Homo sapiens: one gene and its partner. The protein of the gene in region 1 interacts with the protein of each later gene in a pairwise test. Each region holds a gene or a part of one and is shown on either strand. Other genes may lie near its edges.

Region 1 (3,749 bases):
CTATGTTGGCCAGGCTGGTCTTGAACTCCTGAACTTGTGATCCACCCGCCTTGGCCTCCCAAAGTGCCGGGATTACAGATGTAAGCCACTGTGTCTGGCCTAATTTTTCTTGAAATTACATTTCAATCGTGCTTTTTTTTTTTTTTAAAGAATTTGAAATTTACTTACAACCAATGCCTTAATAGTGCTAAGTTTACATGATTTCTCCCCTAAAACCTATCACCAGTGCCTCCTTGGAGTGTTTCTCATGGCAGTCTGAGTTACTTGGGAAGGATCACCTGAGTCCTCCCTCTTCTCACCACTCTACTCCTCTTGTCCTGCCTATCAGTTGTTCTGTCAGTGTTATTCTCAGATAGACCACACAGCTGGTGGCAGCATCTTTAACTTAAGCTGCTGCCCACCTCCAGCCAGCCCATAGCTCTCACTCTTGGCCCCCTTAGTATGTTCTCAAAGCAGGAAAAGCAACAACTGATTTTTTTTTTTTTTTTGAGAGAGTCTCCCTCTGTCGCCCAGGCTGGAGTGCAGTGGTGCAATCTTGGCTCACTGCAACCTCTGCCTTCCAGGCTCAAGCAATTCTCATGCCTCAGCCACCTGAGTAGCTGGGACTACAGGCATGCGCCAACACACCCGGCTAGTTTTTTTATTAGTAGAGACAGGGTTTCACCAGTTGGCCAGGCAGGTCTGGAGCTCCTGGCCCCAAGTGATCCACCTGCCTCTGCCTCCCAAAATGTTGGGATTAGAGGCGGGAGCCACTGTGCCCAGCTGCAACAACTGATTTTATTTTTTTGAGACAGTCTCGCTCTGTCACCCAGGCTAGAGTACAGTGGCGCGACCTTGGCTCACTGCAACCTCTTTATGCCCGGATACATAAAAGAGTTTTTAAAAATGATAAAGTTGAACAAAATATAACAAGCAATTATTAGCTGGAATCAATAAACTGTAACTGCCATAACTTTAGTTTTGCAAAAGAGCTCAATGTTATTTACAATGGTTTACTTTCTACACCAAAAAATAAATAAATAAATAAAAATAAAGCCAGGGCTGGGCGTGGTGGCTCACGCCTGTAATCCCAGCATTTTGGGAGGCCAAGGTGGGCGGACCAAGAGGTCAGGAGATCGAGATCATCCTGGCTAACATGGTGAAACCCTGTCTCTACTAAAAATACAAAAATTAGCTGGGGCGGGTGGCGAGTGCCTGTAGTCCCAGCTACTCAAGAGGCTGAGGCAAGAGAATGGAGTGAACCCGGGAGGCGGAGCTTGCAGTGTGCCAAGAATGTGCCACTGCACTCCAGCCTGGGTGACAGAGCGAAACTCCATCTCAAAAAATATAAATAAATAAATAAAAATAAAGCCAGGAAGTGCACAGTGTTCCATTTTAACAAGCACAGAACTATAAAAGAAGATGCTCCTTACAAAACAGCAAGGACGCCCAAGGAGTGTTCTTGTACATCCAGAGCCCCGAGCACAGTGTCCAGATGGGATAAGTTCTTCGCAAGGAGTTCCCCACTCTTGTTGATCAGTTCACAAAGCTGTGTCATTTGCCCTGGAAAACAGGAACAACACTATTGCATTTCAGCTACAGCACTAACCAAACTGATGGAACTCTAACCACAACTTTGTACTTCAGAGCCTGAAGTTCCCAAAATTGATTCTTAATCTCCTTCACTTCGGATGAGGATCCAGAAGGACCAGAGGAGTGAAACAACCTGTCCGTGGTCTCAAAACGAATTAGAGATTACACTGGACCTCCCACTTCTCTCTGACCCTGAATGTTTCACCTTTTTCTCTATTCTGTTTTCTAGTCTCCCAAGCCAGAAATGCACGTTACTATTAACAGCTCTCTGCATCCAAATGATTTAGTTTTACTTCCAAAGTCTCTCAGCTCCATTTCTTTCTCTCTCCCCTCTCTGCCCTAATTCAGATCCTCATCATTTTTTGTCTGGACTACATCTTTTTTTTTTTTTTAAGATGGAGTTTCACTGTGTCGCCCAGGCTGGAGTGCAGTGGCGCAATCTCGGTTCACTACAACCTCCGCCCTCCAAGTTCAAGCAATTCTCCTGCCTCAGCCTCCCAAATAGCTGGGATTACAGGCGCCTGCCACTGCACCTGGCTAATTTTTTTGTATTTTTAGTAGAGACGGGGGTTTCACCTTCTTGGCCAGGCTGGTCTTGAACTCCTGACCTCATGATCCACCGCGCCCAGCCTACATCATAAATCTTCTAAATGGTCTGCCTACTGTGATCTTTCTCTCCTCCAACCCGCACTCCATATTAGTACTGTCTGTTCTATAAACTGTGCATTCAATCAAGTTATTCCAATGACTTTAAGAAGTGCAAACGCCTCAGCCTGAACTAAGGCCCTTCAATAACTGGTCCCTGCTACCTTTCCAGCCTTATCTCCTGCTACTTCCCCTCACACACCTACTCTTCGATCACAGCAAGCTCAGAAAATCAACATTCTATCTTCTCTCCTCTTTATGCTTCTACACATGCTGTTCTCTGTCCTTCTCCCCCACATCCTCTGCTACCTGACTGAGCCTCATCCAGCATTCAGCAATCAACTTGTGGCGTCTCTAGACCCTCATCTCAGCTCCCTTCCCCATGGCTAAGCTGGGTATCTGCCCTCTCTGCCTCGCATGGGACTGTAGTGGTTAGGTATTTCAGTAAACTCAGGTGGAGGGATTGTCCCTTTCTCCAGCTCTAGAATACATCACCTGCTTAGCAGTTCATCAAGCAGCTACTTGTTGAATTAATCTCCTAATTGATCTATTTTTCCCCTATACTGCAATACTATGTTTGTTTTGTTTTGTTTTTTGAGACAGGGTCTCATTCTGTCGCTCAGGCTGCAGTGCAGTGGTGTGATCACAGCTCAACGCAGCCTCCATCTCCTGGGCTCAAGCAATCCTCCCACCTTAGCCTCCCGAGTAGCTGGAACTACAGGTGTACGTCACCATGCCCATCTTATTTTTTAAGTTTTTTGCAGAGACAGGGGTCTCACTATGTTGCCCAGTCTGGTCTCTAACTCCTGGGCTCAAGCAATCCTCCCACCTTGGCCTCCCAAAGTGCTGGGATTAGAGGCATGAGCCACCACACTCAGCCTGCAATGCTACATTTTAACAACTAAGGTACAGAATCTATTAATAATTAGGCCTCAGCCGGGTGCTGTGGCTCACACCTGTAATCCCAGCACTTTGGGAGGATAAGGTGGGCAGATCTCTCGAGGTCAGGAGTTCAAGACCAGGCTGGCTCACACCTGTAATCCCAGCACTTTGGGAGGATAAGGTGGGCAGATATCTCGAGGTCAGGAGTTCAAGACCAGGCTGGCCAACATGGTGAAACCCTGTCTCCACTAAAAATACAAAAATTAGCTGGGTGTGGTGGCACACACCTGTAATCCCAGCTACTCGGGAGGCTGAGGTGGGAGAATCCTTTAACCTGGGACAATCCTTGAACCCGGGAGATGGAGGCTGCAGTGAGCTGAGATTGCGCCACTGTACTCCAGCCTGGGCAACAGAGCAAGACTCCGTTTCGGGGGAAAAAAAAAATTAGGCCTGAATTGGTACCTTTAAGTAGACCCATCAATTTTGACAATTACTGTCATGACAGATACCATGGTCACACTCTGTCTTTCTGGTAACAGTGAGGATATATTTAAGTCCATGGGCATTAACCTCAAGTTTCCAACTTCTCTATTTCTACAGAGCAACTGCATAATCTTTTCCTTACTAAAAGAATACAACATAGTATAATG
Region 2 (3,749 bases), on another chromosome or scaffold:
TGAGACTGGGTCTATAATCTTGTTGAAAGATATTCTTAGGTAGCAACCTTCTGCAAGGATTGATTGATTAAGTGCCAGAATGAAGCTGAGCACAGTGGCTCACGCCTATAATCCCAGCACTTTGGGAGGCCAAGGCAGGTGGATCACCTGAGGTCAGGAGTTCGAGACCAGCCTGGCCAATGTGGCGAAACCCTGTTTCTACTAAAAATACAAAAATTAGCCTGGTGTGGTGGTGCACGCCTGTAATCCCACCTGCTTGGGAGGCTGAGGCAGGAGAATTGCCTGAACCTGGGAGGCGGAGGTTGCAGTGAGCCAAGATCGCGCCACTGCACTCCAGCCTGGGTAACAGAGGGAGACTCTGTCTCAAAAAAAAAAAAAAAAAAAAGTGCCAGAATGAGTGATCCATGATAGGAGGAGAGGAAATCTGGGTGGACTGGGCTGGGTGATGCAAGACAGTGTCCTGGTCAGGTGTGTCTGAAGCAGAGACCATAAGTTTAGATGTCTTTCTAGGCTGTGCAGCTGTCAGAGATGAGTGAGGCTGAGGCAGGAGTCTGGTGAATTGGGGAGTACTGGAGACTGTCTAGACATATTCCAATTTAGAAACATCAAACACTCTGAGGGCAGGCAACACAATTTGCAGTGTCTGGTGTGTATGTCTGTTTGACTCTGAAAACTGAATGTCTTCAACTCTGAATTTAGGGTAGGAATTGGATGACGTATGGAGCAAGAGGGCATTGTGGTTTGGGAGAATAGTGTAAACAAAAGCCTGAAGGTGGAAATGAGCCCTTCCTATGTGAAGAGTGATCAGAGAGGCAGAGAACTCCTTTTGGTGAGCCAGGAGAGTTAACATTGGCCGGGAAAGATGGGGCCAAAAAGTGGAGTTCCAAACAGGGTAAGGCTGGGAGGGTGGAGAGGGAAGACTTCCCGTCACCTCCTTTTTCCTCATTCTCGCAGCTGGCTGAGAGTGACTTTGCCTCTACCTTCCGGCTGCTCACAGTGTTTGCTTATGGGACATACGCTGACTACTTAGGTAACCAGAGGGGTTGGTGCTCTGGAGTAATGGAGATGGGAGAAGGGCAATTTCTGGAGGGACTCAGAAGAAATTCCTGGGATATCCCACTTAGATCCCTGGATGCATAGGGTCAGGGTCAAGACCTGAATTGGCATTGAAAGTGGGAGGGAAGGGAAGGAGGCTAGGGCTTCCCAGAAAACTGAAATCAGGATTCCTTACACTTTGTCGTTTTTCCCTAGCTGAAGCCCGGAATCTTCCTCCACTAACAGAGGCTCAGAAGAATAAGCTTCGACACCTCTCAGTTGTCACCCTGGCTGCTAAAGTAAAGGTGAGTGGCAGTCCCCCAGTCCTACGGTCTAGAGCATCCTTTTGTATGTCCTTGGGAGTCCACACTAGGACAGCCCTTGTCTAGACCGTGGCTGCTTCCTGCCCTCCCCTCCTCCAAGGTCTGTATATAAACTCCATTAGCAACTGTTTAGGCTGATAGTATTCTTAGTTTTCTGTGTTGTTTTTATTTTTTAATCAACTTAAGTTCTAAATAAACATCTTCTGTGGTTTTGGTCAAAATAGCAACTAGGATGTTGTTCAGGTGTCGTTCAACAATACCTTCTTCCCCACTGCTGGAAACAGGGCTCTCCTGATGAAGTGCTAGGCTTCTCTTTGTTAGGATAAAACATATATATTCTAGAAGTATCTCTGTATTCCTGTTAGGCTGTTTTTTGTCTAATATCACCACCCACCTCCCCAGCCTGCCCAGTCTGCAACCTCGCAATAGTTACTTGACTCTCAGTTGTCCTTGGGATTTAATTTAAACCAGGCTCTCTATTGAGAGATACCTCCAAAGGAATGCCCGTTGCAGGTAGGCAGAGTATAAATGATAAACAGTAACTCCACACCTCTCCCACTTCTGCTTACTCCCCTGTATCAAGCTGATCTTGACTAAGGACTGGGTGATACCCTGAGCTGTGGCTAAAGGAGTGACACCCAGGCAGATGTCATTTTCTCCTTCTGTGGTGTGTCAGGGGTGAGGGTGTTAGGGGAGCATTTTGTATTTTATTTAAGATTGTCCTTCTAATGATGCTGTTTTTGAAGTGGGAATACTTTTATTTATTTTGCTTTAGAACCAGCCTCTTAGAGGAAGTGATTTAGGAATGGGAGTGGAGGGCAGGTGGGCTAGGGCAGGGGGAAAAGGAGGGAAGATTTTTGGAAGCCCTTCTCTACTACGGAGCGTCACAAATCCTGGCCTGATCTCCGCGGCCCCAGTGTATCCCATATGCAGTGTTGCTGGAGGCTCTTGCCCTGCGTAATGTGCGGCAGCTGGAAGACCTTGTGATTGAGGCTGTGTATGCTGACGTGCTTCGTGGCTCCCTGGACCAGCGCAACCAGCGGCTCGAGGTTGACTACAGCATCGGGCGGGACATCCAGCGCCAGGACCTCAGTGCCATTGCCCGAACCCTGCAGGAATGGTGAGAACCGTATCCTGGCACTGTCCCCTTCTCACCCTGAGAAAGAGAAAGGCGCTTCAGGGTGAGAGAGGGCAGGAGCTGGGCTGGTCCGCAGAGGTGGAACCCAAGAGGATGAAGGGAAATGAGTTCATCCCTCCAAAGGCTTCTGGGGAATGCAGGAGTAGGGGAGGCCCTGGGAGGCGGCAGAAGTCAGTGTCCTTGATATAGTAGTTGGGGGAGGAAAAGGGAGTGGTATACTTAAGGGGATCCTAACCAGCAAGGTCGGTCGCCTGTCTTAGGCTAGACTCTGTCGATTGATCTGTAACTACCATTATCCACAGGCCATGACCCTTTTCCTCTTTTTTATTTTCTTTGTGTCCCCATCTAACTTCAGGGTTTCTGTATTCATTAAGTCACCTCTTTTTCTCTTTGGCATCTCCTACCCTATTTTGTTTTCAGTTCCTACTCCCATCTTGCTCATCACTCCAGGCGCTTCCTTATCCCTCTCTGACCACACCGAGTGTCCATCCCACTGCTAGGAGTGTTATCACAGGTGGTTTCTAGGTGCCCTGGTGAGGGTTCCCAACTCAGACTCAAAATGCCAGAAGCTGTGTTCTGGCTCTGTTGCTCAGTTTGGAGTGCAGTGGCACCATCTTGACTCACTGCAGCCTCCAACTTCCAGGGCTCAAGCCACCCTCCACCTCAGTCTCTTGAGTAGCACGGGACTACAGGCTCGTGTCACCACATCCAGCTAGTTTTTGTATTTTTTGTAGAGACGGATTTTTGCCATATCGCTCAGGCTGGTCTTGAACTCCTGAGCTTAAGCAATTCGCCCATCTTGGCCTCCCAAAATGCAGGGATTATGGGGGTGAGCTACTGCGCCCTGCCTCTAGGGTTCTTTTTGAGTCAGTTTTCTGTGAGTCTGTGATCGCAGCCCTTGTCTGCTGACACTTCTCTCCCCTGACTCCTGCAGGTGTGTGGGCTGTGAGGTCGTGCTGTCAGGCATTGAGGAGCAGGTGAGCCGTGCCAACCAACACAAGGAGCAGCAGCTGGGCCTGAAGCAGCAGATTGAGAGTGAGGTGAGCAGTCAGGGGAGCAGGCAGACCCAAACTCCTCCAGCCTGGGCGACTTGTCCTTTGCAGAGAGAATTTGGACAGTGGCTGTAGCAGACAACCAGATGAGCAGGGGCTGGAAGGTTCTGGAACCTTCCTTGCTATCCCCATTCCTTTCATCCTGGTAGGTTGCCAACCTTAAAAAAACCATTAAAGTTACGACGGCAGCAGCAGCCGCAG

Evidence for each region. Proteins that work in one complex are often made in the same cells at the same time.
Region 2: the proteins of COPS3 (region 1) and COPS7A interact in binary tests that used the Homo sapiens proteins (3 or more experiments, as listed by UniProt).

What each region holds. Positions count from the first base shown.
Region 1 is NC_000017.11:17,274,623-17,278,371, forward strand, and holds part of COPS3 (COP9 signalosome complex subunit 3), read right to left. Parts: intron 1,562-3,749; exon of another isoform or gene 1,543-1,561; coding exon 1,413-1,542; intron 1-1,412. UniProt on the Homo sapiens protein: Component of the COP9 signalosome complex (CSN), a complex involved in various cellular and developmental processes.
Region 2 is NC_000012.12:6,726,972-6,730,720, forward strand, and holds part of COPS7A (COP9 signalosome complex subunit 7a), read left to right. Parts: intron 1-954; coding exon 955-1,030; intron 1,031-1,251; coding exon 1,252-1,340; intron 1,341-2,275; coding exon 2,276-2,478; intron 2,479-3,430; coding exon 3,431-3,536; intron 3,537-3,697; coding exon 3,698-3,749.